2 linked regions of the Homo sapiens genome follow. The protein of the gene in region 2 interacts with the protein of the main gene of each other region in a pairwise test. Each region holds a gene or a part of one and is shown on either strand. Other genes may lie near its edges.

What was found. Proteins that work in one complex are often made in the same cells at the same time.
Region 1: the proteins of EML2 (region 2) and SPANXA2 interact in a two-hybrid assay, tested with the Homo sapiens proteins (one large-scale study listed by BioGRID).

What each region holds. Positions count from the first base shown.
Region 1 is NC_000023.11:141,588,455-141,591,262, reverse strand, and holds SPANXA2 (sperm protein associated with the nucleus on the X chromosome A), read right to left. Parts: upstream 1,556-2,808; 5' UTR 1,496-1,555; coding exon 1,424-1,495; intron 777-1,423; coding exon 555-776; 3' UTR 501-554; downstream 1-500.
Region 2 is NC_000019.10:45,618,898-45,622,397, forward strand, and holds part of EML2 (echinoderm microtubule-associated protein-like 2), read right to left. Parts: intron 2,741-3,500; coding exon 2,586-2,740; intron 2,436-2,585; coding exon 2,310-2,435; intron 295-2,309; coding exon 163-294; intron 1-162. UniProt on the Homo sapiens protein: Tubulin binding protein that inhibits microtubule nucleation and growth, resulting in shorter microtubules.

The DNA of each region.
Region 1 (2,808 bases), on a different chromosome or scaffold from region 2:
CATTAAAACACTAACAAATATTTAAGATGCATTGAACATTTTGTTTTAGAATTGGCTTTTCAATCATTTCATCACAAGCAATGCTTTCCTGCCGTTTACTTACTCCTACATCTACTATCTTCTTTTGTATTGTGCTTTGTGTTTTACAGAACATTTGCTCTTTATAAAGCATCTATTTCTAGCCTAGGAAAATATCAAATGGAAAGGGGATGGGAATACCTTTGATATGTCCATTCAGCAGAACTATGTGCTGCCGGGTACAGTTGCGTGAACATATACACATCTCCACTTCCTGTGAGATAAAATTTTAAGAAGAAAATTTTCTTTAGGAATCAGTCCTCCCCCAGGCCTTATTTACAATGTCTGGCTTACTGTCAACCTGTGGGTCTGTCCACCAACCCTACAGGACCTCATATCCCTCCCTTCTCAAATGCCTACCTCTTCCCTTCCCTTCCCTTCCCCCGCCACCATCAGAAAACAGGCAGAGATATACACAGCCATCAGCTTCTCAAACTTTATTTTCATTGCCCAAGGTTGAGAGATGTAGCTTCTTGCTACTTTGCAGGTATTTCAACCATTATTTCCATGAATTCCTCCTCCTCCATTTGGAGGGGGTTGATTCTGTTCTCTCGGGCGTGGTCATTCAGCAGTTCCTCTGGAGATGTTCTTTTAAAGTTCCTCCTGTAGCGAACCACTAGTATGGTCGAGGACTCAGATGTTTTCATTTTTTTAGGAGCAGGTTGCGGGTCTGAGTCCCCAGTTGGGGTCTCCGGCATCTGTTAAGAAAGCAGGGAGAGGCCAGGAGGACATTATTTTGGGTGAACAGGATAGAGACTGGATAGCAAGGGGACTTCATGAGAAGAAGGAATGCGGGTTGAGGAAGGGGTTTGATCCAGAGAAGAAGAAGGTTGAAGCACAGAGTAGGGATCTATGGGGAAGAAGAAGAGGAGCGTGGGTAGGGTCACCTGTGAGTCCAAACTGCACCATTTTGTCAGTTCTTTGCTATTTTGCAGACCTTGGTCAAAGTGAAACATCCCATGGGGGTTCAGGCCGTGAGAAACATCCTGCCTAACCACCTGTCCGCAAGGCGGACAAAGGCCCAACTGAAGAAACATCCCTATCATATCTTGCTTGGCAGCGTTCTAAGGAACACCACAATGATATTCCACCAGAAAAAGGGCCAAACCACCTGATCATAAGAACATCTTATCAATATCCTGCCGGGCAGCAAGCCATACTGCCCAGGCCCCTCCCACCCCTACCTACAAGCACCCCAGCCTGTAAGCGGCGGTGGGCTCTGGCATTAAGCGGGCCCCCCACTTCCACAATGGTCTGCAATATTCCTGTGTTGTTGTTTGAGCCGCCCCCGCTCTGTGTGTCTTTCTTTCACCCTCGCCTTCACTTCAGAACCTAACAGTCTTACCATCTCGTTGGCCTCGTTGGAATCACAGGGGACGCTCCTCTTCACCCCGCCGGCACTGGATTGTTTGTCCATTGTATATATTGGTTCTTCAATGTCAGTGGCAGGCTTTTGTAGGTTTTGAATCTTCTCAGTGGCCCGGAGCTCTTGCCCTCCCTATGTATACCCTCCTGGTGACAAGGCAAAGCCACACCCTTGAGCTTTGTTTGATCATACAGGCAGTGTCCCAGCCAATGGCAGCCCTAGGGTGGCTTCACATCACAAAGCCCCACTGCTGACCACTCCCTGGGCTTGCGGGCGAGGGGTGACAGGGGTGTAGAGCAAACCAAATGCTGCTGTTGTTTCAGCATCCCCTGAAGATGCATCCCAAACCGATCTGCCGCCGCTCCTCATTTCTCCATGTTTAATGTTCACGGTTCACATGGAAGTCAGAGGATGATTCCTTCAAGCCCTTCCCCACAGCCATTCCTATTAAGTGATTCATTCTTTTGTCTTCCAGCCCTCACCATGACTTAGTATTTTCGATGTCTCACCTCAAATCCCCCACGCTAGTGTGGCTACATTTATTTATTGGCGGAGATGTGAATTATCCCATTTCCCTCCTACAGTTCCTTCACATGCACCTCGAAGACCATTTACTTTTGGGCTACTGCCAGGCAAATTTCAACCCATGTTCTTTTACCCAGTGTCCGTGTAGTTCAAGTTTCCTATTTCCAATCTGAAATAATGGCCTTCAGTCTGTCAAAACTTTAGTGAATAAACATTCTTTACCGTGTATCCTAGTCTTGTTTCAAATCAGGGGTGTATATTTTTTTCTCTTTTTGAAATGGAGTTTCACTCTTGTTGCCCAGGCTGGAGTGCAATGGCATGATCTCAGCTCACTGCAACCTCTGCCTCCTGGGTTTAAGTGATTCTCTGGCTCAGCCTCCTGAGTAGCTGGGATTACAGGCCTGTGCCACCACGCCCGGCTAATTTTTGTATTTTTAGGAGAGACGGGGTCTCACCATCTTGGCCAAGCTGGTCTTGAACTCCTGACCTCGTGATCCACCCGCCTTGGCCTCCAAAGTGCTGGGATTACAGGCGTGAGCCACCACACCCAGCCAGGACGGCCATTATTAAAACCACCATTGACAAGTAAATTTTGGTTACTTCTGTAGCATACAACAATTTAACATAAAGTTTATAATTAATAACATACAGAAGTTATTTCAGAATTATAAGAGTTTCCCATAATTTTGGAGCACATATCAATGACATTTCTATAAATACAGCCCAAAGAAAGTCAAACAGCATTTTATATTTGACGATGCTTCTTGTATGATTTTTATACCAAATAAGACCAATATGTCTCTTTTGGACTTCAGAGGACTCATATCAAAAAATTAATG
Region 2 (3,500 bases):
GATCGTGCCATTGCCCTCCAGCCTGGGTGACAGAGCGAGACTCCACCTCGAAGAAAAAAAAAAAAAGACCTTGTTTGGTTTCAGTCTAATGTGCTGAGCCCTGACACAGGGGGAAAGGTAGTTCTGTTAGAATGGTGCTTTTCCAGTCCCCGGGCCCCTTACCTCGATGATCCTGCTCCACAGGGGCTGGTGGGAATCTGAGCTCCATAGATGCACCAGCTTATCCTGCCCGCAGGTCACAAACTGGGCCCGACTGGGGTGTGTGGCCAGGCCCCACAGCTCTTCCACATGGCCCTGGTGGAAAGGGAGGACAGCAGGATGGAGACAGCAGCCCTGGCCTTTTCCCACTCAACACTAATGCCAGACAAATGCTAGATGAGCCCCAGCAACTCACCCTGCCCCAGCGGGACCCAGGGAAGACCTTTCCCAGTATGTCTGAAGGGGGCCTCAATTGGGCATCTGAACCCATGCCCTGGTGTGTGACTCAAGGCAAATCCTGCCCCTTCTCCAGGGACCTCTGCTTTCTTCTTTGCACAATGGGAGGCAGGAGGGCATGGTGGCTCAGAGCTTGATCTCAGGGGTCAGACAGGCTGCACCCTGGCCACACACCTCCCAGGTCTCCAGCTCCAAGGATCTGGGAAGGCGCTTCTGGAGTCTGCCTGCATCCAGACAGAGCCCAGAAGTCTGAGGGACCTCATGGAGGGCACTAAACCTGATGGCTCTGACCTTCGGCTTTCTATTACTGACCGAGCGCAGTCATCTAGGCAGGTGACATCTCCTTGGGACCTCAGTTTGATCGCCTGTAAAATGGGGCCAATTGGTATGTATGCCTCATAGCATTCCTGTGCTCACTCAAATCATGGATGGAAAATGCTGGCCAGGTGCGGTGGCTCACGCCGGTAATCCCGACACTTTGGGAGGCTGAGGCAGGAAGATTGAGCTCAGGAGTCCGAGACCAGCCTGGGCAACATGGCAAAACCCCATCTCTACAAAAAATACAAAAATTTGCCAGTTGTGGTGGTGCACACTTGTAGCCCCAGCTACTTGGGAGGCTGAGGCAGGAGGATCCCTTGAGCCCAGGAGACGGAGGTTGCAGTGAGCTGAAATGGCATCACTGCATTCCAGGCTGGGTGATATAATAAATAAATAAAATGCTAAACATGAGGATAATTCAGAGAATGTGGTCACAAAATGGAAATGTCTAACTATTAATATTTATAACAAATTTTTTTTTTAGACGGAATCTCACTCTGTCATCCAGGCTGGAGTGCAGTGGTAGGATCTCAGCTCACTGCAACCTCTGCCTCCCAGGTTCAAGCAATTCTCCTGCCTCAGCCTTTTGAGTAACTGGGATTACAGGCACACGCCACCATGCCCAGCTAATGTTTTGTATTTTTAGTACAGATGGTGTTTCACCATGTTGCCCAGGCTGGTCTTGACTCCTGATGTCAAGTGATCTGCCTGCCTCGGCCTCCCAAAGTAATATTAATATTATGATTAATAATTATAATAGCCAATATAATAGTATGGGCTGGGTGCAGTGGTTCATGCCTGTAATCCCCGCATTTTGGGAGGCTGAGGTGGGTGGATCACTTGAGGTCAGGAGTTTGAGACCAGCCTGACCAAAATGGTGAAAACCCATTTCTACTAAAAATACAAAAATTAGCTGGGTGTAGTGGTACATGCCTATAATTCCAGCTACTCGGGAGGCTGAGGCAGGAGAATCACTTGAAGCGGGAGGCAGAGTTTGCAATGAGCCGAGATTGAGCCACTGCGCTGCAGCCTGGGCAACAGAGCGAGACTCTGTCTCAAAAATGAAAAAAAAAAAAAAAAAGTATAAATATAGTGCTTCCCGGTAGGTGAGTTCTTTAATTGGGTCAGGGGTAAGGAAGGGAGGGAGGAGGCCAGGAAGGGAGGAGCAGGCGTTTGAGCTTCGAGAAGAAATGCAAGCAGACTCCAGCAGGACCTTCCCCAATCCGTGGAGCTGGAGTCTGAGAGGTGTGTGGCCAGGGTGTCTGCAGCTGTGGGACAACCTGTAGGGACACTCACCAACCTGAAGGGTGCCACCCCCAATCAGAGTGGCAGGAGGCAGCACAGTTGGAGCAGGGGCCTGGGGCCCCTCTGCTGTGCTTGGAGTTAAACTCTTGGTTGCTGGATCCTGGGAAGGGGTCCTGGGTCAGGGCCAGGTCAGAGAAGGGACAGAGCAGGGAGGTGAGGAGAACTGGGAGTGGGGAGGGGGAGTGGATGATGCAGGGAAGGCCAGGGAAAGAGCTGGGAAGAGGGGAGGGGTGCAGAGGAGAGAGGCGCACCTGGACCAGCAGTGAGAAGCCTGTGTGCACGGAGCCCTGCAGGATGGAATTGCGGGTGGTCCCCACGTACAGTGTGTCTCCGTGGCCCTCTGCCACGGTGCGCACAGGGCCAAAGTCCTCAGGGACCTGGGTGGACAGATAAGAGGGAAGATGAGTAGGATGCACACGGGTGGGTGTGGGGTGACATACTGTGGGGAGGAGGGTCTGGCGTTGGGAGCCCTGGTGAGATCGGGGGGGGCCTCTCTACCCCCATCTGAGCCCACTGCCCCTCCTCACCTCCACTTCCTGCAGCTTGCTGTAGTCAGAACCCCAGAGGACCACCCGCCGATCACGGCCCCCTCCAGACACCAGCGTCCCGTCCCGCAGGGCGCAGAGCCCAAACACGCCGCCGTCGTGGGCGCCCAGCACCGCCTGTGTGATACGGTTCCCACCTGCAGGGTGGCCAGGGGCAGGGTCAACAGGGAGAAGCCACCCCTATGCTGACCCCTGAAAGCATCTTGAACTCTCAAGCCTATGTCCATCCATTCTCACCCACTTTTCCACCTTTTTTTTTTTTTTGAGACGGAGTCTCTCTGTTGCCCAGGCTGGAGTGCACTGGTGCTATCTCGGCCCACTTCAGCCTCTGCCTCTTGGGTTCAAGTGACTCTCCTACCTCAGCCTCCCAAGTAGCTGGGATTACAGGCGCCCACCACCATGCCTGGCGAATTTTTTGTTTCTCGTAGAGATGGGTTTCACCATGTTGGCCAGGCTGGTCTCGAACTCCTGACCTCAAGTGATCCACCCGCCTTGGCCTCCCTAAGTGCTGGGATTACAGGCATGAGCCACCATGCCCGGCCCCACCTTTCGACCTTTCTATCTGCTCTTCCACCCACCCAACCACCCAAGCACCTGCCACCTACCCACTCAAATACAATACCTTATCATCTATTCATTAAACCATCTGCACTAACATCTACCCATCCACCCATCTACCCTTTGACCCATACACCCACCCATCCATCCATCCACTCACTTATCTACTGGTCTGTTAGATGAACACTATCGACTCATCCATTCATCACCCATCCATCCACCAGACTATCTATCCATCCATCACCCTAGCCATTCATCCACCCATCTCTCTACTGATCCATCCAGTCAGCCACCCTGCCATCCATCCATCAACCCACCTCTCATCCATTCATTTGCCCT